Homo sapiens: one gene and its partners. The protein of the gene in region 4 purifies or fractionates together with the protein of the main gene of each other region. This does not show direct contact. Each region holds a gene or a part of one and is shown on either strand. Other genes may lie near its edges.

Region 1 (4,423 bases), on a different chromosome or scaffold from region 4:
TGGAGTGAGAGAAAAAGTGAATATTACCAATTTATAATCAGAACCAGCTCTCAAATCAACACTTGACACATAATTTGATACATGAAAAGGATTTAAAAAATCTATTACCTTTTCACTCATTCCAAATTTGGTAACCATCCGCTTTGCTATTTTAGTGGCATTATCAAAATCACTGGAAGCACCTAAAATAAAATAAAAACATACCATTTTAAAACATATCTTTAAGACCACATATAATTTGAACTAAAGCCATTCTTTAAAGCTAACCTGTTGTAATATGGTCGGTTCCAAATATAAGCTCCTCTGCCACTCTTCCTCCCATACTAACATCCATTTGTGCAAGCAGCTGGGCTCTAGTTTCATTCCATCTGTCATTCTCAGGTAACAGGGACACCTAGACAATTAAAAATTAATCAGATAAAAAATAAGCAAAGAGGCTGGGTGCGGTGGCTCACGCCTGAATCCCAGCACTTTGGCAGGCGAGGTGGGTGGATCACCTGAGGTTGGGAGTTCGAGACCAGCCTGACCAACATGGAGAAATCCTGTCTCTACTAAAAATACAAAATTAGGCAGGCATGGTGGTGCATGGCTATAATCCCAACTACTTGGGAGGCTAAGGCAGAAGACTCACTTGAAGCCAGGAGACAGAGGTTGCAGTGAGCTGAGATCATGCCATTGCACTCTAGCCTGGGCAACAAGAGTGAAACTCCATCTCAAAAATAAAATACAATAAATAAAATAAAACCAAATTAAATTAAAATAAAATAAAATGTAATGAAAGAAATTCAGATACAGGCTGGGTGCAGTGGCTCATACCTGTAGTCTCAGCACTTTGGGAGGCTGAGGTGTGAGGATCACTTGAGCCCAGGAGTTTGAGAGTAGACTGGGCAACATCGCGAGACTCCATCAATATAAAATAAAATAAAAATTTAAAAAAAATTCAGATACAGTTCTGATATAGTTACATTAAAAACCAGAATTTCAGCACCGTAAGACTGGGCAAAATAAAAAAATACAAACCAGAATTATCATTTAGCTCTCACTAAAGTACTTTATACCATGTTGCTGAAAGCTGGTCATCAGGGGACTGATGAAAAACCAGCAATTAGAGAATAAAAACATCCTTTATAAAGCAACAACAATAGGTGGATAATGCTGCAATAGGACTGTTTTCTCCCCAGGTGCATAGAAATTTTTTAAATGTCTACAATGTTGAAAGATCTGATAAACTTGTACTAAATGATAAAAATCTTAGAGAAACTACTGAATCAGTTACTACAAAACATAATGTTTTCCCTTTTGGGGCAGCGGAGTAATTAGATATTTAAGAATTAGGCAGGGCATGGTGGCTCACGCCTGTAATCCCAGCACTTTGGGAGACTGAGGCAGGTGGATCACCTGAGGTCAGGAGTTCTAGAGCAGCCTGGCCAACATGGTGAAACCCCATCTCTACTAAAATTACAAAAATTAGCTGGGCGTGGTGGTGGGCACCTGTAATCCCAGTTACTTGGGAGGCTGAGGTGAAAGAATCGTTTGAATCCGGAAGGCAGAGGTTGCAGTGAGCTGAGATCGCGCCATTGCACTCCAGCCTGGGTGACAGGGCGAGACACTACAAAAAACTTACATGTCCAAGTGTTGGCCCCCGTGGCATGATTGTAGCTTTGTTGATAGGCATTGCATCTTTTGTGTAATATGCAATAATGGCATGACCAGATTCATGATATGCTGTGATGGTTTTGTTTTTGTTATCAATTTCCACACTTCTTCTTTCAGGCCCTAAGATAAATTTAATTGAGTAAATACTCCATTAGAAAGGTATATTTAAATCAACAAAACACATTCTTGTCTGCAAATCAAATACACTCCACCCTTCCTATCAGCAGATTCTGCATCCATAGATTCAACCAAATAAGGATTAAAACTATGGGGAAGAGGAACAATAAAAAATAATACAAATGAAAAAAATACATTATAACAACTATTTACAGAGCATTTATATTGTATTAGTAATCTAGAGATGATTTGAAGTATACAGGAGAATTATGTAGGTATATGCAAATAGTACACCATTTTATAAAAGACACTTGAGCATCCCTGAATTTTGGTATCCACATGGGTCCTGGAACCAATCCCCACCCCTTCAGTGGATACTGAGAGGTGAATGTATCTGATATGGGATTAATATTATAAAACAAAAAACTCATTCTCCTTAAAGTCATTCTTATTATAGCTCACTCCAACCTTGAACTCTTAGCCTCAAGCAATCCACCCACCTCAGCTTCCCAAAGTGCTGGGATTACAGGCATGTGCCACTGCACCTAGCTTTAGTAATTTTTAGTAATTTTGTTTCTTTTTAAACAGGGTCTGTAACCCAGGCTGGAATACAGTGGCATGATCATGGCTCACTGTAGCTTTAACTTCTTGGACTTAAGTAATCCTCCCACCTAGGACTCCCAAGTAGATGGGACCACAGTCGCATGCCACCCCACCCAACTAATTTTTAAAATTTTTGGTAGAGATGGAGTCTTGCTATGTTGCCCAGCTGATCTTGAACTCCAACGATTCTGGGCTCAAGCAGTCCTCCTGCCTTGGCCTCCCAAAGTGCTGGGATTACAGGTGTGAGCCACCACGCCCAGTCTACAAAGTTTTTTAAAATGGGCAGAATTCATTCCTAACACATACAAACTTTAACAATTTAACTGAAAACCAAAACTGTCAAAACTATCATCTTAATTCAAAAGGGAAAACTTATTTCTATTTCTATAAAATAAACTTCCAGTTTAACAAGAATATCATAATTAATGTGATTTTAAGCCAATCCAAGATTTAAAATCGAAATTAAGCACAGAATAAAGTATCCTTTTTCGCAGCAATGTCTGACAAGAGGAAATGTATACGTGCCTCATCTCCCCACTACCAGTTTAACTATATAATTACATAAGCAACTAGAATATATTTGTTTCGTAAGATGCCAAATTGTGGTGTTGTCAAGTATATATTTTCATGTTCCCATCACTTTTTAAAGCTTTCCAGTCAGAAAAAAAGGTTTTCTAAGAAAGAGACAAAACTAATAAATGTGGTACACTATAAAATCAGTTCTGTATCACTGACAAGATTATTGTCAAGAAAATGTTACAGTTTAATGGCATTTGTTTGATGTTAAGTTGGGAATTTTGTAAAATCATTTATTACAAATCTTGAAAACCCAGACACTGAAGTTTTAGAGTAAGATTAGATTCAACATAGCCATGGCTTTAGCTGTTTGAATAGAGTATTTGCCCCTAAATGAATTATCTAACACAATGAAAAGTAAAAGACAGAAAAAAAAGAAAGGAAACCTACCCATTAGAATTTTGTCTTTGGAAAACTCCAGCTCCTTCATGGTAACCATTTCTTTTCCATCAACAGCTGCTTTTAATGCAGCCTGGTTCACAAGATTCTCCAACTCTGCTCCGGAAAAGCCAACAGTACCTCGAGCTATAATTTCTGGATCAACGGCTAATGTAAAAAGAGAACACAACGCTAATAAGTCTAAAACAGGTAAAAGAAAGCTCTTCACAAAGAACTCACATTCCAACTGGGTGCGTTGGCTCATGCCTGTAATCCCAGCACTTTGGGAGGCTGGGGCAGGCAGATCACCTAAGGACAGGAGTTGGAGACCATCCTGGCCAACATGGTGAAACCCCATCTCTACTAAAAATACAAAAATTAGCTGGGCATGGTGGCATGCACCTGTAATCCCAGCTATTCAGAAGGCTGAGGCAGAAGAATCACTTGAACCCGGGAGGTGGAGGTTGCAGTAAGCCAAGATTGTGCCACTCCACTCCAGCCTAGGCAAAAAGGGCAAAACTCTTGTCTCAAAAAAAAACCAAAAAAAAAAAACACCTCACATTCCAAGGGAAAAAAGAAAATAGCTAGCTATTCTGAGCCATAGTTTAGTCACTTTTTCTCTGAATTTCATCTGGAAATACTTTAGACATAAAAGCTGCCCTTATAGGAAACATGTATAGTTTAATGAATTGATACAGCTATCTCTGAAACTACTGCAGCTTTAATAATTTCATTTATTACTCAAGTGAGTAATAAATTTCCATGTGTTTTGTTTTATAATTTGCTTTCTTCTCTTTTGGCCCCACACTGACTATATCATGAGTTACTGTTTCTGCAGCTTTTTTAAATTATTTTGCATTTTACATTCATCTTAAAAAAATGTGTGTGTGTGTATGTATATGTATGTATCCTCAAATATTATCTGTCTGAATACTCTAAAAAAACCTTTCTTTAGACTCAGGGTTCAAAACAATAGAATCTCCTGGATATACACTAAGGAATGGACTTTTAAACGAACATACTAATGGAAAAAAAAAAGACAAAAATGAACTGGTCTTTTAATGTTAATACATGTATCATGAAAGGACCACAA
Region 2 (4,423 bases), on a different chromosome or scaffold from region 4:
TAGAACAGCTCTAGAAACTTGAGGCTGGGTGTGGTGGCTCATACTTGTAATCCCAGCACTTTGGGAAGCTGAGGTGGGTTGATCCCCTGAGCTCAGGAGTTCGAGACCATCCTGAGCAACGTGGAGAAACCCCATCTCTATGAAAAAATACCAAAATTAGCCGGGTATGGTGGCATGCGCCCATAGTCCCCGTTACTCAGGAGGCTGAGGTAGGAGGATCACTTGAGCCTGGGAGTCGGAGGTTGCAGTGAGCCAAGATCATGCCACTGCACTCCAGCCTGGGTGAGAGTGAGACCTGTCTCAAAAAGAAAAAAAAAAAGAAACTTGAAATAATTTCACAGGACTGGAGAATGCAACATGTATAGAGAGCAGCAGCCAGGTCATGAAAGGTCTCATACGCCACCTAAGAGTTTGAATGCTTTTGGCAGGCTGGTGTTATGTTAAGTTTTCCGGCCTTTAACGTTATTTGAAATTTTGAAAGTTATTCTTATTTTAAAAATACACAACTATTTATGGTATTGCATATGCTTTTCAAAACTGCATATCTCCTCTGATCTTACTGCAGGAGAGTCTCATAACCTCTCTCCCGAAATTCCTGCTATAGGCAATCAGTATACATGGAAGGGTGTGTGGGAGGTATGGCAGATTCTATAATAGACACTGGCTCATTCAACATTAATTCCAATATCCTTTTCCAGCATTTGTTTTGGTACTACAGAGTTTAGAAAGCCAAAAGCCCCTTCTCAGACTTCCTTGAGGCCAAGGTTTTAAATATTACCTAGGTTTCACCAAAAAACCCGGCCCATGTGAGGCCTCAGATGCAGAAATGAACAATGTAGGGGTGGTGATAGCACTTAGGAGCTCAAACAGCTGGGACTGAGGTCCCTGATGTCATAGACCCTGAGTGGCAGGTGATAACTTCAGTGAGGTTTTCTAGTTTAGTATTGTGGCATAGTTGGGTATTTCTCTTCACTATATAGCAGTTAAGCTTTGCATCCCTACTTTCCTAGAAAGTCTATAAATTGCCTGATACTGTATAATTAATCACTTTCTGCTTTAAATTAGTTACAGTAGATTCTGTTTTCTGCAATAAGAAGCCTAGTAATAGGTACGGCAGGATGGTGAATAAAGAGGTATATATATATAGATTTTTTTAAAAAGGTTCCAGCATGAAACCTGTAGTATATTTATTACAGATGGGCTCTCTAATCTTTTTAGATAGATTCTCTAATCTTTTTAGATAGATTCATACATACTTCTGAAATAGTTCTGGAAGGACTTGTTAGCTGAGGTACTTTTGTTCATTGTTTTTAGCTTAAAAATTAGGGCTCTGCCAAATTTCTTGTTTTAAAATAAACTTTTTTTGTTAGAGGGGAGACACCGATTCTTGGAAAGCTTTTCTTTATCTACTAATTGTGGGTGTTTTATGTCACCTTTCCTCAAATACATATGCTTCCCTAATGTATCTTTATCATCACTTAAGCAGTGGCCGTTTACCTTTTGGGTCACAGACCCAAATCTGCTACCCAAATCTGATAAAAGTTTATTGATACCTTACCTCCAAATACACATACAAATATATTCCTGTAGTTCCATATACAATATGAGTTAGACACCGTTCTCTTTCCTTATACCCTTTAAGTATATTCAGTAAATGAAGGTCAAAAATTCCTACTCTAGAATGACAGAAGTGAGGTCCAAAACCAGCATTAGTTATCTCTTAGAATGAAGGAGAAAATGTGGTTCAAAATCAGACATTTTTCAGAGAAATAGCTTGCTATCCTCCTCAATCAGAAAAATTTTTTTCCAAATCCCAAGAACCTGTGAATTAATAAATTATTTCCCCAAATACATTTTTTCCCCAAGAAATTTAATTAATTGTTTTTGAAATCAGAAAATTAAACAAATCGTCTCCCCCCACTTCCTCTGCCCTCCTATATATACTCACCATGTTTTGGGCTGAGAATGGGAAAGGGATCTCCTAGTTTCCAGAAGAAATACATAAAGGTCAGCCATAAGAGACAGGAAAAAAGCAGTCGTTGTTTATGCACTGAGACAGAGGAGACAAAACTGTTAGGAAAAACAGATATAGGTTAAAGAGCTTGCTCTATTTAAAAATATAAGATAATGCTAACTAATATTTGGCTGCTAATTCACTTGGCAAATGACTGATGAACAGCATAATTTTTAGTGAAAGCATCCTTACCATCGTAAGAGAAATTTAGCTGAATTTAAGGTGTGGGATGAACTAAAGGAGACATTATTAATAGGTAGAAAAATAAAGCTGTGGCAGAACAAATAACCTAATCATTCATTCAATATTTATTTTGTGCCAATTCATTCAATATTTATTTTATATTTATTTTTAAGATGTTGTGTGTGAGGTATCCTCAAATAGCGGTAGATACTGAAAGTTAATGTAGAAATGAAGCTATCCACAATTTAAGTCCCCTCAAATACTCATCTCAATCTATATGCTGACTGAGAGGGTAAAATACTTACGTAGTCGGATATTGCTCACAATAAAATAGCCAATGTAAAAAGGCACCATGAAAACCAGGATCAGCAGAATTACACACAGGTTCATTTTCCAGTGAAAATAACGGGAGCTGAAATAAATGTCAAAGACTGTCACTGGGAGGAAGAGAGGGCAGCAACTTTCTTTCTCTTTAGTCTTCCAAAGGGTCCTTTTGCTCTTTGGACTCAATATTGAATATATCCTATCTAATCAGCCTACTAGGCTCTTAAAATCTACTCATTTGTAGAGATTAAAAAATACAAATTTTTGAAAGGTATATATGACCATCTTAACATCTTAAGAATTTCATATATTAAAATAAGAATGTTTATGTTTTTGATATATTCATAGGCAACATATACCATTAACATGTATCAACATATGCCATTGCTGGTAGAATGACTATTGTTTTACCCACCCCTAGGAATCTCATTCCAATGTAAGAATTAAAGGAAAATAAATGTTAACAGTAATATATGTTATACTCAAAAATATTTCTTTTGTACTCTTGATATAAACACCTGATTTGCATGAATTACTTTTATTAGTTTATAAGATGTACTTCATTTATTAAAACTTTTTGTTAGCACTTTTTATAACAGTTTTAATGAGATATAATTTACCCATTTAAAGTGTACAATTCAATGGTTTTTGTATACTCAAGAGTTGTGCAACCATCACCTAAATCAATTTTAGAACATTTTCATTACGCCATAAAGAAACCCTGTACCCATTAGCAGTCACTCCCTGTTTCTCCCCAATCTCCTCAGCTCTAGGAAACCACCAATATACTTTCTGTTTCTAGGAAACCACCAATATGTAATCTTTTGTGACTGGCTTCTTTTACTTACCATAATGTTTGCAAGGTTCATCCATGTTGTAGTATCTATCAATAATTCCTTTTATGGTTGAACAATATTCATCCCATTATATGGATATATTATATTTTGTTTCTGCATTCATTAATTGAGGACATTTGGGTTGTTTTTAGCTATTATAAATAGAGACGCTAGGAATGTGTGTGTATACATTCTGGTGTGGACGTATGTTTTCATTTCTCTTTAGGTAGAAATGGAGTGGAATTGTTGGGTCATATGATAAATCTATATTTAATCTTTTAGGCACTCCCACTGTTTCCCAATGTGGCTGCATCATTTTACATTTTCCTCAGGAGTGTATGAGAGTTCCAGTTTCTCCTCAGCCTCGCCAACACTTGTTATTTTCTGTTTTTTTTTTGGTTATAGCCATTTTAGTTGGTGTGAAGTGGTATCTCATTGTGGTTTTGATTTGCATTTCCTTGATGGCTAATGGTATTGGGCATCTATTCATATGTGCTTACTGGCCATTTGTATATCATCTCTGGAGAAATGCCTATTCAGATCCTTTATTCATTTTTTAATTGTATTATATGATTAAACTATAAGAATTCTTTATATATTCTAGATACGAGTCCCAGTCCATTATCAGATAGGTAATTTATAAAAATTTTCTCTTGTTTTTGGAATGTTGGTTCACTTTCTTGATGGTGTCCTTTGTATTTACTGATTTTAAACTTACTTAAGCCTTGTTTCAAAAAAGGCCTAAGTGGTTAAATGGCTTACAAAGATAAATAAAATACAGGATGATGAAATGAACTATAAGGAAATATGAACAACAATGGTAACAGGTAAAATATTGGGCCAAGCCTGATGGCTATTATAAAACAGAATTCTAGAAAGTTGCTATGGGTAGGTCATAAATTTAGCTTTAAGTTTTCTAATGGTCAATGTGAAATAAAAAATTTGATCAGTTAGATAAAATCATCATGTCTGTAAGAAAATAAAAATTAATTCCTCAAAGGAAGCATAATTATCATTTATTGTTACTGAATTATTAACAAGATTACAATGAAATTTCTTCAAAGAT
Region 3 (4,423 bases), on a different chromosome or scaffold from region 4:
GAGAAGACCCTAAGTTCATGTGCAATATCTAGTTATAACAAGTCACTCTTCACAGCCAAGACCGTTCTCAGAATCCAGAAAGTTTGAAGGGTTCGGGGCATGAAGTCTCTGCCCACATCTATTACCAATTCAGCAGGGTATATTTACAGAAAAGGCTGGGATCTCAGGAGGGACTGCTGTGTCTCCCAAGGAGGGTCACTGGGTCAAAGAGGCCCCCTGGAGCCTTGTGAGACCACAATAGTCTGAAGTTGGATTCGTTATGCTACAATTTTCTATCTTATTTTTTCCTCCCTACTTCAAAACAGAGGTAGATCAGGATTAATCTTTTGCCAGTTTCTCTGTGAACCATTTCTTAAAATCAGAAACCTGTAAGAATGAGAAAGCTTGCCAGCTCACATGCATGCGCCATGTTTTTTGATCATCTTGTGCTCCTTGTTTTTTCAGACCCACACAAAATGTTCCACCATAAACACCGTGAACTTGCCTGCTGCAGGAATGCTAGGGCGTACTTTATATTTCATCCCCCAAAATACGTGCTTTAAGAAACATTTCATGCGTCACCACTGATATATCATTGGGTTCTTTTGTTACCATCTTGGGATTTTTCATTTATGTTTACAAGTGAGATTGGCCTACACTTTGCCTTTCTTGTCTGGTTCTTGTCTCATTTTGATACAGATGAACCTAGTGTCAAATGAGTTGGAGGAAGCATCCTGTTCTACTTTCTCAGATAATTTTAATAAGGTTGGAAGAGTGTGTTCCTTCAAGGTTGTGTAGAACTTGCCTTAAAATAATCTGGGCCTAATGTTTTTCTGGTGGGAAATTTTTAAATTATGGGATTTGCATTCTTTAATGATTATTGGACTAGGCAGGCTTTTTGTTACATCTTGAATCAATTTTGGTAGGCCTTGGTCCTTGAGATGATAACATTGGTCTCTTGATTATCCACTTGCTCCAAGGAGGGTTTTACAGACTACTCCCTAGGCTTGAAAGCGTGGGGTGAATACCACCGGGAGTACACGAGATAATTGTAAGAGGTGTGTAGACTTGGTTTTAAATAACATTGAACTACATGATGAGAAGTCATTCTCATTTCAATTATCTTTGAATCCTTATGGTTAAGTCAAGTGGAAAGTATTGGTTTGGAGCCAGCATGTCCCACACCTCAAAATTAATGTTTATTTTTATCAAAGTAATTTATGTACGTGATCTGAAGATAAAGTGGGATTACAGGTTTTATGACAACAAATAACTCTTCCTTGTCCCTACCTCCCCTCTCCCTCTATCCCTAGAGATAACCCTTTTTGATTACTACTTTGGGTATTTACTTCTGTATTTCTAAACATTATACTTTCACTGCTATTTATTGATTCACAAATTTTAGACATTGTCAGTTGGCTTCTTTTTATGGAAGAAATAATTTCATGCTCCTTTACTTCTTCTTTTCCTTACCTCATCCTTCCAGTAACATTATATCACTCTGTTAGGTTAAATCAATAGCCAATGTTTATAATTATTGTGATTAAGAAAATAATGTTGAAAGCAGGGCCTTATAGTATACTGTGGTTACATTTCCTTCTTGTGCAATTTTTTTTCCCTAGGGTTAATAATTGCTCTTTATTTCTTTGTTTGCTTAGTTTCATGCCCAAATCTTCTGCAGAACTGAAAATCTCCTTTCGTTACATTCAAATGCATTAGATAATCTAGTAATACATTTTTCTGTCTTGGAGTCATTTCTGCCTGAGTCCTCCACTTTTCGCTTCAAGTTGCGGGATGCTCTTGGTGCTTGCTGCACAGCTGCTATCCTGGGACTTCCTGTCACCATCCTAGAAATTTCCCTTATACTGTCCTGATTTGGATTTCCTGGACCTCCTGTTTTCCTGTTTATTGGTTTTCTCTCTCTTTTTAGTGGAGTGCACCCTTCAGAAGCTTCCTGAGAAAGGGTGAATGTTTGGTAAAGTTTTGAGACTTCACATATCTGAAAATGCACCTTTATCTTGCCTCACAGTTAAGGGATGGCTTGTTTAAATGCATTTCTGTATTAGAAATCCTTACCCTTAGAGTTTTTGAAAAAATTTGCTCCATGGCTTCCTAGTTCCCACTGATATTGTTGAGATGTTCTGTGCTATTCTGATTCTGGACCTTTTGTTTGGAAACTATGGAAGCTTCAGGATCTTGCCTGGCCTACTGTCCCGAGATGTTAATAGCATTGTGCTTGTTGAGAGGCTTTTTCTTCACTGTGCTCAACCCCAGGTGAGGCCTTTTCACAGCCTGAAAACTCATGTCCTTCTGTTTTAGAATTTTTTTTTTGTTTTGAGACAGGGTCTCAGTGTTGCCTTGGCTGAAGTACAGTGGCACAATCTCACCTCACTGCAGCCTTGACCTGCCAGCCTCAGGCAATCCTCCTACCTCTGCCTCCTGAGTATCTAGGACTACAGATCTGTGCTACAATGCCCTGCTAATATTTGTATTTTTTGGTAGAGATAAGGTTTCACCATGTTGCCCAGTCTGGTCTCAAACATCTGGGCTCAAGCAATCTGCCCACCTCAGCCTCCCAAAGTGCTGGGAATACAGGTGTTAGCCACTACTCCTGGCCCAGAATATTTTTTAATATTATTTCTTCCCCCAGATTTCCTCTCCTTCATTTTCTCTGTTCTTTCATTCTTAAAACGCATACTAGTTGTGTGTTAACCTCCAGGACTGATCCTCTAGTTTTCTTTTATCTTCAGGTTTTCATAATTTTGGATTTTTGTTCTTTCAGAGGAATTTCCTCAACTTCTAACTTTTTATCTGAAATTTGAGATATCATAATTTTAATTTCCAATAACTTATTTTTATTCTCTGATTGCTTTTTAGTTGTTGGTGCTGATGTTAAACCGTCACTTTTTTATTTCATTGATGTAGTTTATTCTCTTATATTTGAGGATTTTAATTATAATTTTAAAAATTCTCTGTAACATTTCTGTTTCTTCCAAGTATCTTTGTGTCTTTTTTGGCCTTTGTCTTTCATTTGTATTTATTATTTACCCATTAAGTATTTATTGAGCACTTCTGTGTACCGGGCATTGTTATAATAGCTTGGCCTAGATCCATGAACAAATCCCACAAAAATCCTTGCCCTCTTGGAGTTTGCTGAGGAAGCCAGAAAATAAACAATAAGCAGATGATATTATAAGAAAATAATATAAGCTGGGCATAGTAGCTCACACCTGTAATCCCAGGGACTCAGTAGGCCCAGGCGGGAGAACTGCTTGAGACCAGAAGTTCAAGAGCAGCCTGGGCAACATAGCAAGAGCCCCCTCTCTCTATTAAAAAAAAATTAAAAAATTAGCCACATGTGGGTACATACCTGCAGTCCTAGCTACTTGGGAGGCTGAGGTTGGAGGATTGGTTGAGCCCAGGAGTTCAAGGCTTCAGTGAGCTATGATCATGCCACTATACTCCAGCCTGGGCAACAGCGAAAGACCCCAACTCAAAATGAAAGAGAAAATCATATATTATGTTAGAAGGTAATTGGTGCTAAAAAAAAAAAAAACAAAAACAGAAAGGATAGCGTTGTAAGAGGGTATGGGATGGGTTCCTGGGGGGTAAGTTGGGTGGTCTGTGATATACAATAAAGCTATGGGTGTAGGTCCCGCTGAGAAGGTGGCATTTGTGAACATGTAGAGAAAGAGCTCTTGGGTCAGAGACAATAGTCAGAGAAAAGCCCTTAGCTGAGGATACACCCAGTGGGTTAGTCAGGAGGTTAGGGGGCTGCAGGGAGCCTGGCAGGGAGTGGGAGGAGGTCAACTCAGAGAGGTCATAGACGGCTGGGTCACACTGGGCCTTAAAGGCCACTGTAGGGGACTTTGGCTTTTCTCTGAGTGAAATGGAAAGTCATGACAGGGTTTTAAGCAAAAGAGTGACATGATCTTATATTTTAAAAGGAGAATCCTGTTTGCTTTGCTGAGAAGAGCCTGTATAGAGGCATTGGTAGAAGCAGAAAATGCATTTAGAATTCCAGGCAAGAGATGATGGTGGCTGTGTTGCAGAATTTTTGCTCCTTAGTTCAGCTAAAACTGGGTTCTTGTCACATGGCCAGGAAAGATTAGGCGTGCTGACACATTGAAGGGTGAGTAGAGCAGAATTTATTGGATGTAAAGGAAAAAAAGAAAAAAAAAAAAAGAAACTCAACAAAGCGGGAGGGGGTCCTACTCACAGGCCCCTGCCTCGCAGATTAATTCCAGGTCACCACCCACGAGCTGGAGACCAGGCTCCTCCCTCTGCACAAGGTTCGAACTTCCTGTGGCTCCACCCTGTTCCTCCAGTGAGCATGCAGGCTTTATTCAGAAAGAATCAGTTTGGAAAGGGCAGGCAAGCGGGGGCAGTTCTCCCTCAGGGTGGCAAGTTTCATCCTGGACCAGCAGTCCAGGCTTTCAGCCTT
Region 4 (4,423 bases):
AACAAAGACGCATCAAAGAAAGAAAACTACAGGCCAATATCTCTAATGAATACTGATGCAAAAATCCTCAACAAAATACTAGTAAAGCAAATTCAACAATACATTAAAACAGTCATTCATCATGACCAAGTGGGATTTATCCCAGGGATGCAAGGATGGTTCAACATGTGTGAATCAATCAATGTGATAAATTATATCAACAGAATAAAGAACAAAAATCATATAATCATTTCAATTAATGCTGAGAAAGCACTTGATAAAATTCAACATCCCTTCATGATAAAAATCCTCAAAAAACTGGGCACAGAAGGAACATATCCCAGCATAATAAAAGCCATATATGGCTGGGCAAGGTGGCTCATGCCTGTAATCCCAGCACTTTGGGAGGCTGAGGGGGCGGGTCACTTGAGTCCAGGAGTTTGAGACCAGCCTGGCCAACACGGCAAAACCTTGCCTCTACTAAAAATACAAAAAATTAGCCTTGGTATGGTGGTGCATGCCTGTAGTCCCAGCTGCTTGGGAGGCTGAAGCATGAGAATTGCTTGAACCTGGGAGGGAGAGGTTACAGTGAGCCAAGATGGCACCACTGCACGCCAGCCAGAACAACAGAGCAAGGCTCTGTCTCAAAAAAAAAAAAAAAAAGTTATATACGATAGACCCACAGCTAGTATCATATTGAATGGGGAAAAACTGAAAGCCTTTCCTTCAAGATCTAGAAAAAGGATGGCCACTTTCACCACTGTTATTCAAGACAGTACTGGAAGTCCTAGCTACAGCAATCAGATAATATAAAGAAATAAAGGACATCCACGTTTGCAGGGACATAGATGAAGATGGAAACCATCATTCTAAGCAAACTATCACAAGGTCAGAAAACCAAACACCGCATGTTTTCACTCATAGGTGGGAGCTGAACAATGAGAACACATGGACACAGGGTGAGGAACATCACATACCAGGGCTGGTAGGTGGGGAGTCAGGGGCTGGGGTAGGGATAACATTAGGAGAAATATCTAATGTAAATGACGAGTTGATGGGTGCAGCAAAGAAACATGGCACATGTATACCTATGTAACAAACCTGGACGTTGTGCATATGTACCCTAGAACTTAAAAAGTATAATTTTTTTAAAAAAGCAAGAAATAAAGGACATCCAAACTGGAAAAGCAGATGACAAATTATCCTTGTTTGCAAATGATATGATCTTATATTTGGAAAAACCTAGAGACTCTGGCAAAAAACTGCTAGAACTTTAGAATTCATTAGTAAACTACTGTTTACAGATAAACAAATTCAGTAAAGTTGCAGGACACAAAATCAACATACAAAAGTCAGCAGCATTTCTATATGCCAACAGTGAACGATCTGAAAGGGAAATCAAAAAAGTAACCCATTTACAATAGCCACAAATCAAATTAAATACCTAAGCATTAACTTAACCAAAGACGTGAAAGATCTCTACAAAGAAAACTATAAAACATTTGTGAAAGAAATTTAAGAGGACACCAAAAAATGGAAAAATATTTCATGTTCATGGATTGGAAGAATCAATATTGTTAAACTGTCTATACTACCCAAAGCAATCTATAGATTTAATGAAATTCCTGTTTAAATAGCAATGACATTCTTCACAGAAATAGAAAAAAAAATCCTAAAATTTATATGGAACCACAAAAGACCCAGAATAGCCAAAGTTATCCTGAACAAAAAGAACAAAACTGGAAGAATCACATTACGTGACTTCAAATTATACTACAGAGCTATAGTAACCAAAACAGCATGGTACTGGCATAAAAACAGATACATAGACCCATGACACAGAATAGAGAACCCAGAAATAAATCCATACAGCTACAGTAAACTCATTTTCCACAAAGGTGCCAGGAACATACACTGGAGAAAGGACAGTCTCTTCAATAAATGATACCGGGAAAACAACATCCATATGCAGAATAATGAAACTAGACCCCTATCACTCACCACATAGAAAAATCAAATCAGCCTGTAATCCCAGCACTTTGGGAGGCTGAGGTGGGTGGATCACAAGGTCAGGAGTTCGAGACCAGCCTAACCAACATGCTGAAACCCCATCTCTACTAAAAATACAAAAAAAAAAAAAAATTAGCCAGGTGTGGTGGCGCGCGCCTGTAATCCCAGCTACTCAGGAGGCTGAGGCAGGAGAATCGTTTGAACCTGGGAGGCGGCGGTTGCAGTGAGCAGAGATCAAGCCACTGCACTCACTGCACTCCAGCCTGAGTGACAGAGGGAGACTCCATCTCAAAAAGAAAAAAAAGAAAAAGAAAAATCAAATCAAAATGGAATAAAGACTTAAATATAAGTCTTCGAACTATAAAACTACTTCAAGAAAACTTGGGGAGACTCTCCAGGACATTGTTCTGGGCTAAAATTTCTTGAGTAATGCCACACCAGCATAGGCAACCAAAGCAAAAATGAATAAATGGTGTCACATCAAGTTTAAAAGCTTCTGCACAGCAAAGGAAACAGTCAGCAAAGTGAAAAGACAACCCACAGAATGGGAGAAAATATTTGCAAACTACCCATCTGACAAGGGATTAATAATCAGAATACATAAGGAATGGCAAATAACTATCAGAATAAATCTAATGATCCAATTTTTAAATGGGCAAAAGATCTGAATAGACATTTCTCAAAAGAAGACATACAAATAGCAAACAGGTATATGAAAAGCTGCTCAACATCATTGATCATCAGAAAAATGCAAATCAAAACTACAATGAGATATCATCTCACTCCAGTTAAAATGGCTTTTATCCAAAAGCCAGGCAATAACAAAAGCTGGCAAGGATGTGGAGAAAGGGAACTCTCACACATTGTTGGTGAGATTATTAATTAGTTCAACTTCTATGAAGAACAGTTTGGAGGTGCCTCAAAAAAATAAAAATAGAGCTACCATACAATCCAGCAATCCCACTGCTGGGTACATAACCAAAAGAAAGGAAATCAGTATATGGAAGAGTTATCTGCATTCCCATGTTTGTTGCCGCACTGTTCACAATAGCCAAGATCTGGAAGCAACGTAAGTGTCCATCAACAGATATTTACATACAATGGAGTACTATTTAGGCATAAAAAAGAATGAGATCCTGTTATGTGCAACAACACAGATGGAACTGAAAGTCATCATGTTAAGTGAAATAAGCCAGGCACAGAAAGACAAACTTCACGTGTTTTCACTTATCTGTGGGATCTAAAAATCAAAAAAATTGAACTCATGGAGATAGAGAGTACGCTGGGCGCAGTGGCTCACGCCTGTAATCCCAGCACTTTGGGAGGCTGAGGCAGCCAGATCACCTGAGGTCAGGAGTTCGAGACCAGCTTGGCAAACGTGGTGAAACCCCATCTCTACTAAAAATACAAAAATTAGCTGGGTGTGGTGGCGGGCACCTGTAATCCTAGCTACTTGGGAGGCTAAGGCAGGAGAGTCACTTGAACCCAGAAGGCAGAGGTTGCAGTGAGCTGTGATCATGCCACTGCACTCCAGCTTCCAGCCTGGGCAACAAGAGCAAGACTCAATCTCAAAAAAAGAAAAAGAGTAGAAGGATGGTGGTTACCAGAGCTGGGAAGGGTAGTGAGAGAGAGTTGGGGGTGTGGGGAAAACTGGGGATGGTTAATGGATACAAAAAGTAGAAAGAATGAATAACACCTAGTATTTGATAGCACAAAAGGATGACTATAGTCAATAATAATTTAATGGTACATTTTAAAATCATTAGAAGAGTACAGCTGGATTGTTTATAAAAACAAAGGATAAATGCTCAAGGGGATGGATACCCCATTTACCATGATATGATTATTAAACATGTTGCATCCCTATATCAAAACATCTCATGTACCCCGTAAATATATATATACCTATGTACCAACAAAAATTAAAAATTAATATAAATAGAAATAAAAATGAAGTAGTCAAAGTCATAGAATCGAGGAGTAGAATGGTGGTTTCCAGGGACTGGAGGGCAGGGGAAAATCAGGAGTTATTAATCAACAGGCATAAAGTCTCAGTCAAGCAAGATGCATAAGCTCTAAAGATCTGCTATACAGCATTGCACCTATCAACAATACATATCAACAATAATGTATTATACACGTAAAATTTTGTTAAGAAGGCAGGCCCGGGTGCAGTGGCATACGCCTGTAATCCTGGCACTTTGGGAAGCCAAGGCAGGCAGATAACCTGAGGACAGGAGTTCAAGACCAGCCTGGCCAACATGGTAAAACCCTGTCTCTACTAAAAATATAAAAACTAGCTGGGTGCGGTGGCCAGCTACTCAAGAGGCTGAGGCAGGAGAATCCCTTGAACCCGGGAGGCAGAGGTTGCAGTGAGCGGAGAGCACGTCACTGCACTCCAGTCTGGGCAACAAGCAAGACAATGTCTCAAAAA
Region 5 (4,423 bases), on a different chromosome or scaffold from region 4:
GGGTTACAGGCGTGAGTTGTTAAATAACACTTTTGGTAGGAACAACTAATACCACTTTAGACACACAGATCCGCTTTCCTGTAACAAAGTATGGGCCTTGGGGTCAGCATATGCCTGTCCTCCCTTCTGAGAGAAGGCTGGGCCAGCACATGTCTTGTTCTAAGCCTCAAGCCTCCTAGGGAATTAGGATTCTGAGTCCAAAGGCCAGACGGGCCCAGAAGAGGAGATTCATTCCTTTATCTGAGATTCTCTAAGTGCAATGCTTTACTAAATGAGATATTATAAAGTAACAAATCTATACCAGCTCTCAGTTTTCTGTAGAGATGCTTGCACTAATAATTTAGGTTTCACGGCATGCCCCAATGGATTATCTAAGAAACTGCAAAAACGTTGTGTTTCTGTGACTTTCAAGACTCTAGTTAACGCAGGCCCCTCACATACGGATCCAGAACGCATTCCTCTTAAACTCAGCGCTGGGAAAGGAGAAAGGAAAACTTCTTCTTTCTTGAGGCCATGGTTTAGAGGATCAACACTTTTTTTTTTTTTTTTTTTGAGACCGAGTCTTGCTCTGTCACCCAGGCTGGAGTGCAATGGCGCAATCTAGGCTCACTGCAACATCCACCTCCCAGGTTCAAGCAATTCTCCTGTCTCAGCCTCCCAGGTAGCTGGGATTACAGGCACGTGCCACCACGCCCGGCTAATTTTTCTATTTTTTTAGTAGAGACAGGGTTTCACCATGTTGGCCAGACTGGTCCTGAACGCCTCACCTCGGGTAATCCACCTGCCTCAGCCTTCCAAAGTGCTGGGAATACAGGCGTGAGCCACCACGCCCAGCCGAGGCCCAACACTTCTATAAACTCCAGTCCTTTCTGAGAGTAAGATTTACAAACGAAGAGATAACAGCAGTCCAACTACGGACAATGAGGAGAAATAGTTAACATTTACCAATCGTGACCCAGACATCAGCCTAAGTGCTTTACATGCATTACTTAATTCAGGTTTCCTCATCACCCGACGCAGGAGGCTCTGTTATCCTCTCCATTTTAAGGGTGAGGAAACTGAGGCACAGGGCTGGCTAGTGACATGCCCATGACGTGTCAACTCACTTCTCTTTCTGAGCCCTGAGGTATGGTTTGATGATCAGACGGTGCATGGCAAAGTAGACCACTAGAGGCCCCACGGTGGCATAGAACATGGCGCTGGGCAGAAGCTGGTCCGTCAAGTGAATAGGGAAGAAGTATGTCTGACTGGCCCTGTTGAGCCTGGGGAAAAATACAAAAAAAAAAAAAAAAAAGCCAAGATGAATCAGGTTTTCCAGGGAAGGGCAATGGGGTGTCAGGCACAGGAAGAGAACTTGTGCTGCGTGCAGCTGCGAGTTAAAGGAGCCTGCAGTCTGCTCCTTTCACAGTCCACCACCTTCTGGCCTCCCGTTCCAAAGTCTGGCTGATGGATCTGACACTGTGACAGAAGAAAGATCCCAGTGTCTGCTGACCTCAAGCCAAAGCAACAAGAGGAACACTTCACGGGGTCAACGTCCCCTACAGGTGCATTCAGTCATAGGCTGGAGAGGACAGGAATGGGCTCCTCCAGATGTCACTGGAGAGTCACATCTCAGTTCTTAACTGAGGTTTCCAAAGAAGTTAGTGAAGACTTCAAAAGTTAGTCAGTTAAGGAGGTTCTGCTTCCAGTGGTGGCTGAGTAAAGTAGCTCCTATTGGACCAATGTGTAAACTCTGGACCACATATAAAAAATTTGGCCAGGCGTGGTGGCTCACGCCTGTAATCCCAGTACTTTGGGAGGCTGAGGTGGGCGAATCACCTGAGGTCAGGAATTTGAGACCAGCCTGGCCAACATGGTGAAACTTCATCTCTACCAAAAATACAAAAATTAGCCGGGCGTGGTGGTACCTGTCTGTAGTCCCAGCTACTCGGGAGGCTGAGTGAGGCGGGAGAACGCTTCAACCCAGGAGGCAGATTGTACCACAGCACTCCAGCCTGGTCAACAAGAGGAAAAGGACTGAGGATGCATGGACAGAATCTCAGAAACCCGTGGAAGAGTGTTAAGTTTAATATATTGGTAATTAGAGCCCCAGTGAGGAAAAGGAAATTTACAGATGCAAGAAGTTTAGGAAACCCCAAGCATCATAAATACAACAACAGCCTTATCTATGTACATCACAAACTGCTGAAAAGCCAGAAAAAGAAAACATGCTGAGTAGCCACTGACAATACCTGATCACACTCTTCCAGAATAAAAGCTCTTCCAGAATAAAAGCAATTCCAGAATTGATAAAGAACACTCAAAACTTGGCCAGGCTCAGTGGCTCACGCCTGTAATCCTAGCATTTTGGGAGGCTGAGGCAGGAGGATCGCTTGAGGTCAGGAGTTTGAGACCAGCCTGGCCAACATGGTGAAACCCTGTCTCTACTTAAAATACAAAAATTAGCTGGGTGTGGTGGTGGGCGCCTGTAATCCCAGCTACTCAGGAGGCTGAGGTAGGAGAATTGCTTGAACCTGGGAGGTGGAGGTTGCAGTGAGCCAAATGCACTCCAGTCTGGGGTGCAAGAGCGAAACTCCGTCTCCAAAAAAAAAAAAAATATATATATATATATACACACACACACACACACACACACACAAACAGAGACAGGTTAAATGTGAATGGGTAAAAAAAATAAATAGTAAGCATAAGAAGACTAAAAAAGCTATATAGTAACAGATAAGGTAGACTTCAAGACAAAAATTTTTTTTTTTTTTTGAAGTGACAGGGTCTCACTCTGTCATCTAGGCTGAGGGGCACAATCACAGCTCACTACCACCTTGAGCTCCTGGGCTCAAGTGATCTTCCTGTCTTGGCCTCCCAAAGTGTGCGCGCCACTGTACTGAGCCTTCAAATATTATCTGAGGAGAGATGGCTGACGCCAGCTCTAATCTAGGTAAGTGATTTGGCTTTGTTTCCAAAACTGAGCTGTGATCCACTTTGATTCACTCACTGAGTTCCTCTCAAGTACCACGATGGGTTTTAGGTTCTAGAAGTGCGGGTGAGAATAAAATGGACCAAGTCCAAGAGCTTATGTCTGATGAGGAGTGCAGGAGATGGCCCTTCAGATGGAGACTGGCTCGTTGGAGATTGAACATGGCAAACATGGTGGGGGGGATCACCTGGGGCAAGGGGAAGGGCTACTATGTTATACAAGGTGAATTAGGGGACATTTGAGCAGACAGCAGATACTTACAGGGAGTGAAGGAAATGGCCACGTATTTATCTGCAGACTGAGAAATAGCAAAGGCCACCTCATAAGCAGGAGGGGGCCTGGTGTGTGCCAGGAATAGCTCCAGGGGGTCAGGATGGCTGGGGTTGGGGTAGAGAGGAGTACTACATCACGGAGGGCATTGTAGGCTCCAAAGTCTCTGAAGGGCTTTGGCCTCCGACTGGAATTGAGGGAACCTCTGAGGTTTTAGGCAGAAGACAGACGTGAACTGCCTTCAATTTTAAAAAGGACTCTCCTACGGAAAGCAGACACACAAGGAGGGAGACAGGTTCCGTGGGGAGGGTGCTGTGTAACTAAGACAAAGATGCTGGCCGCAGTGAGGTTGAGAAATGGCGAGACTGGGGATACAATTTTGGAGTACATGTTCAGGAGATGATTTTGAGATATGTATGATTTGGAGTGTGGGAGAGAAAGAGATCGAGGCTGACTCCAAGGTTTTTGGACAGAGCAAGTAGAAGGCCAGAGCTCTCATTTACTGAGATAGGAAAGGAGGCTGGGCGCTGTGGCTCACACCTGTAATCCTAACACTTTAGGAGGCCGAAGCGGGAGAACTACTTGAAGCCAGGAGTTCAAAACCAACCTGGGCAACCAAGTGAGACCCTGTCTCTATAAAAATAAAATAAAAAAAGAGAGAGAGATGGGAAAGACTTCGGGCAGAGCAGGTTCTGAAGGTTCTTCGTTTCTGGGGGCACAGGGAGGGATCGAGTTCTGTTTGGATACGTGACATCTGAGATGCTGTTAGGTATCCAAGTAGAGATTAGGAAGAGAAAGCTGGACAAATATATGAGCTGGAGATTGAGGGGGTGGTCCAAGCTGGCACTTGCAACGTGAGTCCTCAGGGCATGAGAGCCATGAGGCTGGACATGACTGCTTGGGAGTGAGTCGAGAGAGAAGGGCTGTGCCCTGCAGTGGTGCCTCCATTTAGGGGTTTGGGAGACAGCAGCCATCTGGTACGGAAAGCCAGAGCAGGGCGTGGTATCCTGGAAACTCAGGGCAGAGAGGCTGTAAGGGCAGGAGGGAACGGCCACCGCGACAGCAGGTGCAGAGACCAAATGAGATGAAGAAGAATCACCCTCTGATCTGCCACAGGAGGGAGGGTGCCCCACTGATGAGGTGAGAAAGGCTGATTCTGGAGAGGGCTGGTTTTGCTGG
Region 6 (4,423 bases), on a different chromosome or scaffold from region 4:
AGGAGAATGGCGTGAACCTGCGAGGCGGAGCTTGCAGTGAGCTGAGATCGCACCACTGCACTCCAGTCTGGGTAACAAACAGAGCGAGACTCTGTCTCAAAAAATAAAAATAAAAAGTAGATGCCTAATACTGGAGGCATCAGAAGAACCAAGAAGGAAGAAATCTGAAACGTACTCTCCCTTCCCATGTAATAACATACAAAGTTACTTTACCTTTCTGCAGATTTGGAACGGGAACGAGAGCGAGAACGGCTGCCTCCTCGACGTCTATCCCTTGAACGATGCCGCTTTCTATCTTTAGATGGGGAAGACTTCCGGTCCCGGTCTCTATCCCGCTCTCTGTCAGGAGTCCGTGATCGCTTCCTTTCCTCCTTGGAAGGTGATGCATCACGGTCCTTTTTGTCAGCCAGCTCTCCTGCCATCTGTAATGAGTAGGAAGAGTACTTACAATGTACTAGGCACTGCTCTAAACTGCTTATATATAATTCAATTACCCTCAAAACAACCCTATGAGGTGGATATATTAGTATGTCTACCGTACAGATGAGAACGGTGGAGCTCAGGTATATAAAGGAACTTGTCTGAGGGCAGACAGGTAGTGGCAGAGTTGCAGGCAGTCTGGCTCCACAGGCCATCGTTACTCACTATATTGTCTCCCTGTAATTCCTTTCAGAGTCTCACTCTGTCACCCAGGCTGGAGTGCAGTGGTGCAATCATAGGTCACTGCAGCTTCAACTTCCTGGGCTCAAGCCATCCTCCTGCCTTGCCTAGCTAATTTATTTTTTTTATAGACAGGGTCTCACTATGCTGCCCAGGCTGGTCTTAAATTCCTGACCTCAAGCAATCCTCCTGCCTCAGCCTCTAAAAGGCTGAGATTACAGGCGTGAGCCACAGTGCCTGGTCGATTCCTTTTTATATATTCATTTCTAAATATGTACAGTGAATATACCATGTTTTTGTAATTAGACTACAAAAGAGTATTAAAAGAAGTGTTAGTGTATGAACAGTGTACCAACTATTTCTAGAAACATCCTATATTGCTTACTTTGAAGTTTATTAGGTCTGCCAACCCACTAGGATCAGTTAGCACTCATACGTCTGAGAGAGATAAATTTTCTTGAGCTCATAAAGAAAGCTCAATGGAGAAAAAAGTTTAACTTTGAGATCTGGATTACGTTATAATTAGCACCACAAGGAAAACCTGAATTTAAGTGGAGAAACACACTTTTACTCAGATTAAAAGAAATGTACCTCTAATTATGCAATGGGAAGAACTTGGTGAAGGGTACACAGAACCTCTATACACATTTTTTAACTTCCTGTGAAACTATAATTATTTCAAAGATATATATTTTAAATACCCAAAACTAGAGGTTGCAGAAGTCCTGATTGACATTCCCTATTCAGATTTTCACAACCTTGGTCATCTGCATAACCCAGTTTTGTGAAAGGTTTCAGCAGGAATTTTTTCTGTCTCCCTCCTACCTGGGAGACACCGAACACCACTCCCACACTGTCAACTCTTCTTTGGGCTATGAACTCTAGTTCAGCCAGGAGCTAAAACTGCAGCAAGCCTGAATCTGCAACCACCTCATCATCATCCCAAAGACTTGGGATACATTTCTCGCAACTTATTTTATCCCCAAATGGTTCAGCTCGAATGGTTCCTTAAGCTTTAGCTTACAAGCCCCTTTCTCATGCCATTCCCTGCCATATATCCTTAAGAAAGATTGTATAAAGATGAGAAAAGAAAAATGAACAAGAAGCACTTTCAAAAGGTGAGGACAACCCATTTTATCTCACAATCACCTGAGAAATGACTGATTGTTCTGTATCAGTACATCATGGCTATCACACAGAAATACCTATGTCTTGGGCTGGGCATGGTGGCTCACCGTGTAATCCTAGCACTTTTGGAGGCCAAAGCGGGCAGATCATGAGGTCAGGAGATTGAGACCATCCTGGCCAACACGGTGAAACCCCATCTCTACTAAAAATACAAAAATTAGCCAGGCATGGTGGCACGTGCCTGTAGTCCCAGCTACTCAGGAGGCTGACGCAGGAGAATCACTTGAACCCAGGAGGCGGAGGTTGCAGTGAGCCAAGATCATACCACTGCACTCCAGCCTGGCAGCAGAGCGTGATCCGTTTCAAAAAAAAAAAAAAAGAAAGAAATACCTATGTCTTGACTGGGTGTGGTGGCTCATGCCTGTAATCTCAGCACTTTGGGAGGCTGAGGTGGGTGGATCGCTTGTCCAGGAGTTCGAGACCAACCTGGGCAATATGGCAAAAACCCATCTCTACTAAAAATATAAAAAATTAGCCACGCATGGTGGTACACGCTACCCAGGAGGCTGAGGTGGAAGGACTGCTTGAGCCCGGGAGGCAGAGGCTGCAGTAAGCCGAGATTGTGCCACTGCACCCCAGTCTGGGTGACAGGGCAAAACCCTGTCACACACCAAAAAATAAAAAATAAAAAAAACACTTACAGCCCTAAGAAAACAATCCCAAAGGAAGGCTATTTTCTCTGTACAGCATCCTGGATTTCATTCATTCTTTCAACAAATATTCACCGAGCACCTACAAGGTGCCAGAAATTGTTGTAGGTAACGGAGACAAAGCAGTAAAGAAAACAAAGTCTCATGCTGGGCGTGGTGGCTCACGCCTATAATCCCAGCACTTTGGGAGGCTGAGGCGGGCAGATCAAGAGGTCAGGAGATCAAGACCATCCTGGCTAACAGGGTGAAACCCCGTCTCCACTAAAAATACAAAAAAATTAGCCGGGCGTGGTGGTGGGCGCCTGTAGTCCCACCTACTCGGGAGGCTGAGGCAGGAGAATGGCGTGAACCCGGGAGGCAGAGCTTGCAGTGAGCCGAGATCATGCCACTGCACTCCAGCCTGGGTGACAGAGTGAGACTCCGTCTCAAAAACAAAACAAAACAAAAAACAAAAAAAAAAAGAAAACAAAGTCTCCTACTTCATAAAGCTTAAATTCTAGTGTAGCGGAAAGGATTTTAAATAGTAATGAATGCTAATGAAGAAAATAAAACAGTGATATGATGGGTAGGGGTATAACAAGAGATAGATGGCTCAGGGAAGAAGTTTTAGTTGACATTTAAGCTGAGACTTGAATGATGGGAAAGAGGGCCATGAAAAGATCAGGGTAAAAAACCCTTGTTAGATACAAGAAATGTGAACTAGCTTAGCATGTTTGTCAGGTTTGTTTTGTTGTTGTTGTTGTTGAGACAGGGTCTCACCCTCTCACGCAAGATGGAGGGCAGTGGCACAATCACGGCACACTGCAGCCTTGACTTCCCAGGCTCAAGCGATCCTCCTGCCTAGGCCTCCCAAGTAGCTGGGACTATAGGCGCATGCCACCACACCTGACTAATTTTTTTTTTTTTTTTTTGAGATGGAGTCTTGCTCTGTCGCCCAGGCTGGAGTGCAATGGCATGATCTTGGCTCACTACAACCTCCACCTCCCAGGTTCAAGTGATTCTCCTGCCTCAGCCTCCTGAGTAGTTGGGATTACAGGCGCGTGCCACACCACGCCTGGCTAATTTTTGTATTTTTAGTAGAGGCGGGGTTTCACCATGTTGGCCAGGCTGGTCTCAAACTCCTGACCTCAGGTGATCCGCCCTGAGTGCCCAAAGTGCTGGGATAACAAGCATGAGCCACCATGCCCGGCCCCAACTAATTCTTAAAATTTTTATTAGAGACAAGGTCTCAATTTGTTGCCCAGGCTAGTCTTGAACTCCTGGGCTCAAGGGATCCTTCGGCCTCAGCCTCCCAAAGTGCTGGTATTACAGGTGTGAGCCCAACTACACGTTTGTCAGTTAAAAACATATTTGTTTGGCCAGGCCTGGTGGCTCATGCCTGTAGTACCAGCACCTTGGGAGGCCAAGGCGGGAGGATCACTTAAGCCCAGGAGTTCGAGACCAGCCAGGGTAATATAGCAAGACTTCCCGTCTATTTTGAACAATAAAATTTTACATTTATAAACAGTTAAAAATCAGCCGGAGGCCAGGAGCAGTGGCTCACGCCTGTAATCCCAGCACTTTGGGAGGCTGAGATAGGCAGATCATGAGGTCAGGAGTTCGAGACCAGCCTGGCCAACAGGGTGAAACCCCGTCTCTACTAAAAATACAAAAATTAGCCAGGCGTGATGTCAGGCATCTGTAATCCCAGATACTCGGAAGGCTGAGGCAGAACTGCTTGAACCCAGGAGGTGCGGGTTGTTGTGAGCCGAGATAGTGCCACTGCACTAGCCTGGGTGACAGAGCAAGACTCCCTCTGTCTCGAGAGAAAAAAAAAAAAAAATCAGCCAGGTGTGGTGGTTCACACTTGTAATCCTAGCACTTTGGGAGGCTAGGGTGGGTGGAATGCCTGAGCTCAAAAGTGCTCAAGAGCTCATAGGCAGAGG
Region 7 (4,423 bases), on a different chromosome or scaffold from region 4:
CGCCTGTAATCCCAGCACTTTGGGAGGCCAAGGCGGGCGGATCACGTGGTCAGGAGATTGAGACCATCCTGGCTAACATGGTGAAACCCCGTCTCTACTAAAAATACAAAAAAATTAGCTGGGTGGGGTGGTGGGCGCCTGTAGTCCCAGCTACTCGGGAGGCTGAGGCAGGAGAATGGTGAGAATGGTGTGAACCCAGGAGGCAGAGCCTGCAGTGAGCTGAGATTTCACCACTGTATTCCAGTCTGGGCGACAGAGTGAGACTCTGTCTCAAAAAAACAAAGAAAAAATATCAATTCTTTTTTTTTTTTTTTTTTGAGACGGAGTCTCACTCTGTCGCGCAGGCTGGAGTGCAGTGGCGCAATCTAGGCTCACTGCAACCTCCACCCCGCTGGGTTCAAGAGATTCTCCTGCTTCAGCCTCCTGAGTAGCTGGGATTACAGGCGCCTGCCACTGCACCTGGCTAATTTTTGTATTTTTAGTAGAGATGGGGTTTTACCATCTTAGCCAGGCTGGTCTTGAACTCGTGACCTCGTGATCCACCCACCTCGGCCTCCCAAACTACTGGGATTACAGGCATGAGCCACCATGCCCAGCCCTTTTTGTTTTTTGTTTTTTGTTTTTGAGATGGAGTTTCACTACTGTTGTCCAGGCTGGAGTGCAATGGTGCAATCTTGGCTCACTGCAACCTCCACCTCCCAGGTTCAAGCGATTCTCCTGTCTCAGCCTCCTCAGTAGCTGGGATTACAGGTGCCTGCCACCACGCCCAGCTAATTTTTTTGTATTTTTAGTAGAGATGGGGTTTCACCATGTTGGCCAGGCTGGTCTTGAACTCCTGACCTCAGGTGATCTGCCTGCCTTCATGTCCCAAAGTGCTGGGATTACAGGCATGAGCCACAGTGCCTGGCTAAGAATTGAGTATTTTCTAAACCTATTATCATTTGTCTTTATTGCTTCCAAGTTGGATTCAGAACATCATTAATATTGAACAGGGAAAATTATTCTTTTTTTTTTTTTTTAAATAGAGATGGGGTTTCACCATGTTGGCCAGGCTGGTCTCAAACTCCTGGCCTCAACCTCCATCGGCCTCGGCCTCCCAAAGTGTTGGGATTACAGATGTCAGCCACCATGCCCGGCCTATTCTGGGGTGATTGCTTTGTAAGGCAGTGGGAAGACACCATCTGGATGAAAGGCCAGTCCTGATCTTCACCCAGTATACCACCTCACCCAGAGTTCAATACTCCTACTGCACACAGACACAATTCAATGAGAGGCATGAAGTACTTTACCTCCTTGCATGTGGGCTGTTCAGCAGGAGACGGAAATTCAGTTAAAGGTTTAGGCAAGTTCTGGCTCTTTGCTGCTTCTCTGTTTGATGTTTCAAAAGATGTCTGACTTGTACCTTCATCACCCTGGTCAAACACAACAGACAATTTCTAAAGAGATGTTTTCTATCAACTTTATTCTATTCACAATTGTTTTTCCTTTTTCCTTTTTTTACCCTGATGGCATATCAGTAGAAAAATATTAGCAAGCCATTATGAGACCCAAAAAATTAAAGCATTATCTCCGTGGACAGGAAAACACGAGGCTTGAGCCGGGTGCTATGGCTCACACCTGTAATCCCAGCACTTTGGGAGACTGAGGAGGGCAGATCACCTGAAGTCAGGAGTTCAAGACCAGCCTGGCTAACACAGTGAAACCCAATCTCTACTAAAAAAATGCAAAAATTGGCCGGGTATGGTGGCTCACGCTTGTAATCACAGCATTTTGGAACGCCGAGGTGGGCAGATCACAGGAGGTCAGGAGTTAGAGACCAGCCTGGCCAACATGGTGAAATCCCATCTCTACTAAAAAGACATACAAAAATTAGCTGGGCGCGGTGGCAGTTACCTGTAATCCCAGCTACGTGGGAGACTGAGGCAGGAAAATCACTTGAGCCTAGGAGGCGGAGGTTGCAGTAAGCTGAGATCGCACCACTGCACTCCAGCCTGGGCGATGGAGAGAGACTCTGTCTCAAAAACAAAAATTAGCTGAGGCAGAAGAATTGCTTGAACCTGAGAGGCAGAGGTTGCATTGAGCTGAGATGGTGCCATTGCACTCCAACTTGGGCGACAGAGTGAGACTCAGCCTCAAAAAAAAAAAAAAGAAAATTTAAAATTGTAAACTTCTATAGAAACTGACAAAATTCATATTCAATGCTGAAGGAAAACATAACCAAAGTTTAATTTGACTTAAAAATCAGAATATATAATATATAATAACATATATAACCTGAGCTTAATACCTTGGAGATCTTGACTTGAGGAAAGATCAGAATATTCTTGTCCTCATATAAGACAATAACAATTTATTTGACAGTTTTAAAGACTATCTTATGTCACAGTCAGTCTTCTTTTTTTTTTTTTTTTTTTTTCTGGAGAAAGGGTCTTGCTCTGTCTCCCAGCCTAGAGTGCAGTGGTACAGTCACAGCTCACTGCAGCCTCTTGACCTCCTGGGCTCAAGTGATCCTCCTGCCTCAACCTCCCAAGTAGCTGAGACTACAGCCACACACTACCACGTCTGGCTAATTTTTAATTTTTTTTTTGTAGAGACAGGGTCTTCCTATGTTGCCCAGGCTGGTCTCAAACTCCTCGTCTCAAGCAATCTGCCTGCCTCATCCTTCCAAATTGCTGGGATTACAGGCGTTAGCCACCACAACAGCTTTTTAAGGAACCAAGTTATATGCTCTTTAGGCACCAAAAACCACTTAACCAGCCAGGTGCAGTCCATGGTAGGGTGCACCTATAGTCCCAGCTACTTAAGAAGCTGAGGCAGGAGGATCCCTTGAGCCCTGGAGTTTGAGGCTGCAGTGAGCTATGATCGTGCCACTGCACCCCAGCCAGGGCAAGAGAGAGAGACTGTCTTTTAAAAACAAAGACCAGCTGGGCTCAGTGGCTCACGCCTGTAATCCCAGCACTTTGGGAGGGTGAGGCGGGCGGATCATGAGGTCAGGAGATTGAGACCATCCTGGCTAACACGGTGAGACCCCATCTCTACTAAAAATACAAAAAATTAGCTGGGCATGGTGGCAGGCGCCTGTAGTCCCAGCTACTCGGGAGGCTGAGGCAGGAGAATGGCATGAACCTGGGAGGCGGAGCTTGCAGTGAGCCGAGATTGTGCCACTGAACTCCAGCCTAGGGGAACAAAGCAAGACTCCATCTCAAAAAAAAAAAAAAAACGACCAACCCCTTAACCATGTAATAAACAAGTATGCTGAACAAAAACTGATAATCATTATCAATAAAAACTCCTAAAAGCAGTCTAACATCATTTTCAATTAAAAATCAATCATGTAATAGGAAACATAGTAAGAGGATTCAAAATATAAAATGAGAATATTTTCCAACCCCAAGTTTGTGACCACTGCTTAATTTCCAGGCTTCACCCGTCATTTGATAAAAGCGCTCCTCCAGTTTTCTCAATTTCATTTCCTGGTGAGGTTTTAAAACATTCTCTATGTATCTGCTGGCCTGTTGAAAACAACAAATTAGGTGTTGTTACTATCCATTAATGTTCCTAAAAATGTACACTGTCTATAAAGTTGTAAATAAGAACCAAGTAAGAACCCTGCTGGCTGAACAGAGCCACTGCCACCCTGTTTGGCTGCTTGGTTGTGGGGAGGCTCGTGCCGACAGCTGGACAGCAAGCGGGACAGGCATTTGTTTTTGACCTGCCTGATTATGACAGTATCAACCAGGTTGTGGTTTTCATGCTGGGAACAATCCCATTTCCTGAGAGAATGGGAGGATCTACTTTTCCTATCCTGATTCAAATTGAATGCCGGTATGGCAACTCCAAGGATTTGTCACAAATGGGAAACCAAGTGCCATCTTTAGAATTTCAGATCTTAAATCTGGAGAGGGAAGCCAACATCCTTTGTTTTTGTTTTTGTTTTGAGATGGAGTCTCACTCTGTCACCCAGGATGGAGTGCAGTGGTGCAGTCTCCACTCACTGCCATCTCTGGCTCCTGGGTTCAAGTGATTGTCCTGCCTCAGTCTCCCAAGTAGCTGGGACTACAGGTGCCTGCCACCACGCCCAGCTAATTTTTGTATTTTTAGTAGAGACAGGGTTTCACCTTGTTGGCCAGGATAGTCTCGATCTCTTGACCTCGTGATCCACCCGTCTCAGCCTCTCAAAGTGCTGGGATTACAGGCGTGCACCACCACGCCTGGCCCAAAATTTTTTAAAAATTAGCTGAGCATGGTGGTGTGTGTGTGCCTGTAGTTCCAGCTACCCAGGAAGCTGAGGCAGGAAGATCCCATGAACCCAGGAATTTGAGGCGACAGTGAGGTATGGTTGTACCACTCCACCCCAGCCTGGGCAACAGAGAGAGGCCCAGTCTCAAAAAAAAAAAAAAAAAAAGTGGTATATCTATTCAAT

What was found.
Region 1: the proteins of SLC35G2 (region 4) and YME1L1 purify together in Homo sapiens (affinity purification with mass spectrometry; one large-scale study listed by BioGRID and IntAct). This does not show direct contact.
Region 2: the proteins of SLC35G2 (region 4) and GPR89A purify together in Homo sapiens (affinity purification with mass spectrometry, with the first as the bait; one large-scale study listed by BioGRID). This does not show direct contact.
Region 3: the proteins of SLC35G2 (region 4) and MGST2 purify together in Homo sapiens (affinity purification with mass spectrometry; one large-scale study listed by BioGRID and IntAct). This does not show direct contact.
Region 5: the proteins of SLC35G2 (region 4) and DNAJC11 purify together in Homo sapiens (affinity purification with mass spectrometry; one large-scale study listed by BioGRID and IntAct). This does not show direct contact.
Region 6: the proteins of SLC35G2 (region 4) and DDX23 purify together in Homo sapiens (affinity purification with mass spectrometry; one large-scale study listed by BioGRID and IntAct). This does not show direct contact.
Region 7: the proteins of SLC35G2 (region 4) and UBXN8 purify together in Homo sapiens (affinity purification with mass spectrometry; one large-scale study listed by BioGRID and IntAct). This does not show direct contact.

The regions. Positions count from the first base shown.
Region 1 is NC_000010.11:27,115,952-27,120,374, forward strand, and holds part of YME1L1 (ATP-dependent zinc metalloprotease YME1L1), read right to left. Parts: intron 3,499-4,423; coding exon 3,343-3,498; intron 1,777-3,342; coding exon 1,625-1,776; intron 395-1,624; coding exon 268-394; intron 183-267; coding exon 109-182; intron 1-108. UniProt on the Homo sapiens protein: ATP-dependent metalloprotease that catalyzes the degradation of folded and unfolded proteins with a suitable degron sequence in the mitochondrial intermembrane region.
Region 2 is NC_000001.11:145,621,240-145,625,662, reverse strand, and holds part of GPR89A (Golgi pH regulator A), read right to left. Parts: intron 2,610-4,423; coding exon 2,503-2,609; intron 2,071-2,502; exon of another isoform or gene 2,051-2,070; coding exon 1,949-2,050; intron 1-1,948. UniProt on the Homo sapiens protein: Voltage-gated channel that enables the transfer of anions such as iodide, chloride, bromide and fluoride which may function in counter-ion conductance and participates in Golgi acidification.
Region 3 is NC_000004.12:139,678,722-139,683,144, forward strand, and holds part of MGST2 (microsomal glutathione S-transferase 2), read left to right. Parts: intron 1-4,423. UniProt on the Homo sapiens protein: Catalyzes several different glutathione-dependent reactions. Catalyzes the glutathione-dependent reduction of lipid hydroperoxides, such as 5-HPETE.
Region 4 is NC_000003.12:136,821,461-136,825,883, reverse strand, and holds part of SLC35G2 (solute carrier family 35 member G2), read right to left. Parts: intron 1-4,423.
Region 5 is NC_000001.11:6,638,796-6,643,218, forward strand, and holds part of DNAJC11 (dnaJ homolog subfamily C member 11), read right to left. Parts: intron 1,263-4,423; coding exon 1,107-1,262; intron 1-1,106.
Region 6 is NC_000012.12:48,845,361-48,849,783, forward strand, and holds part of DDX23 (probable ATP-dependent RNA helicase DDX23), read right to left. Parts: intron 423-4,423; coding exon 214-422; intron 1-213. UniProt on the Homo sapiens protein: Involved in pre-mRNA splicing and its phosphorylated form (by SRPK2) is required for spliceosomal B complex formation.
Region 7 is NC_000008.11:30,753,754-30,758,176, reverse strand, and holds part of UBXN8 (UBX domain-containing protein 8), read right to left. Parts: intron 3,513-4,423; coding exon 3,390-3,512; intron 1,413-3,389; coding exon 1,290-1,412; intron 1-1,289. UniProt on the Homo sapiens protein: Involved in endoplasmic reticulum-associated degradation (ERAD) for misfolded lumenal proteins, possibly by tethering VCP to the endoplasmic reticulum membrane. May play a role in reproduction.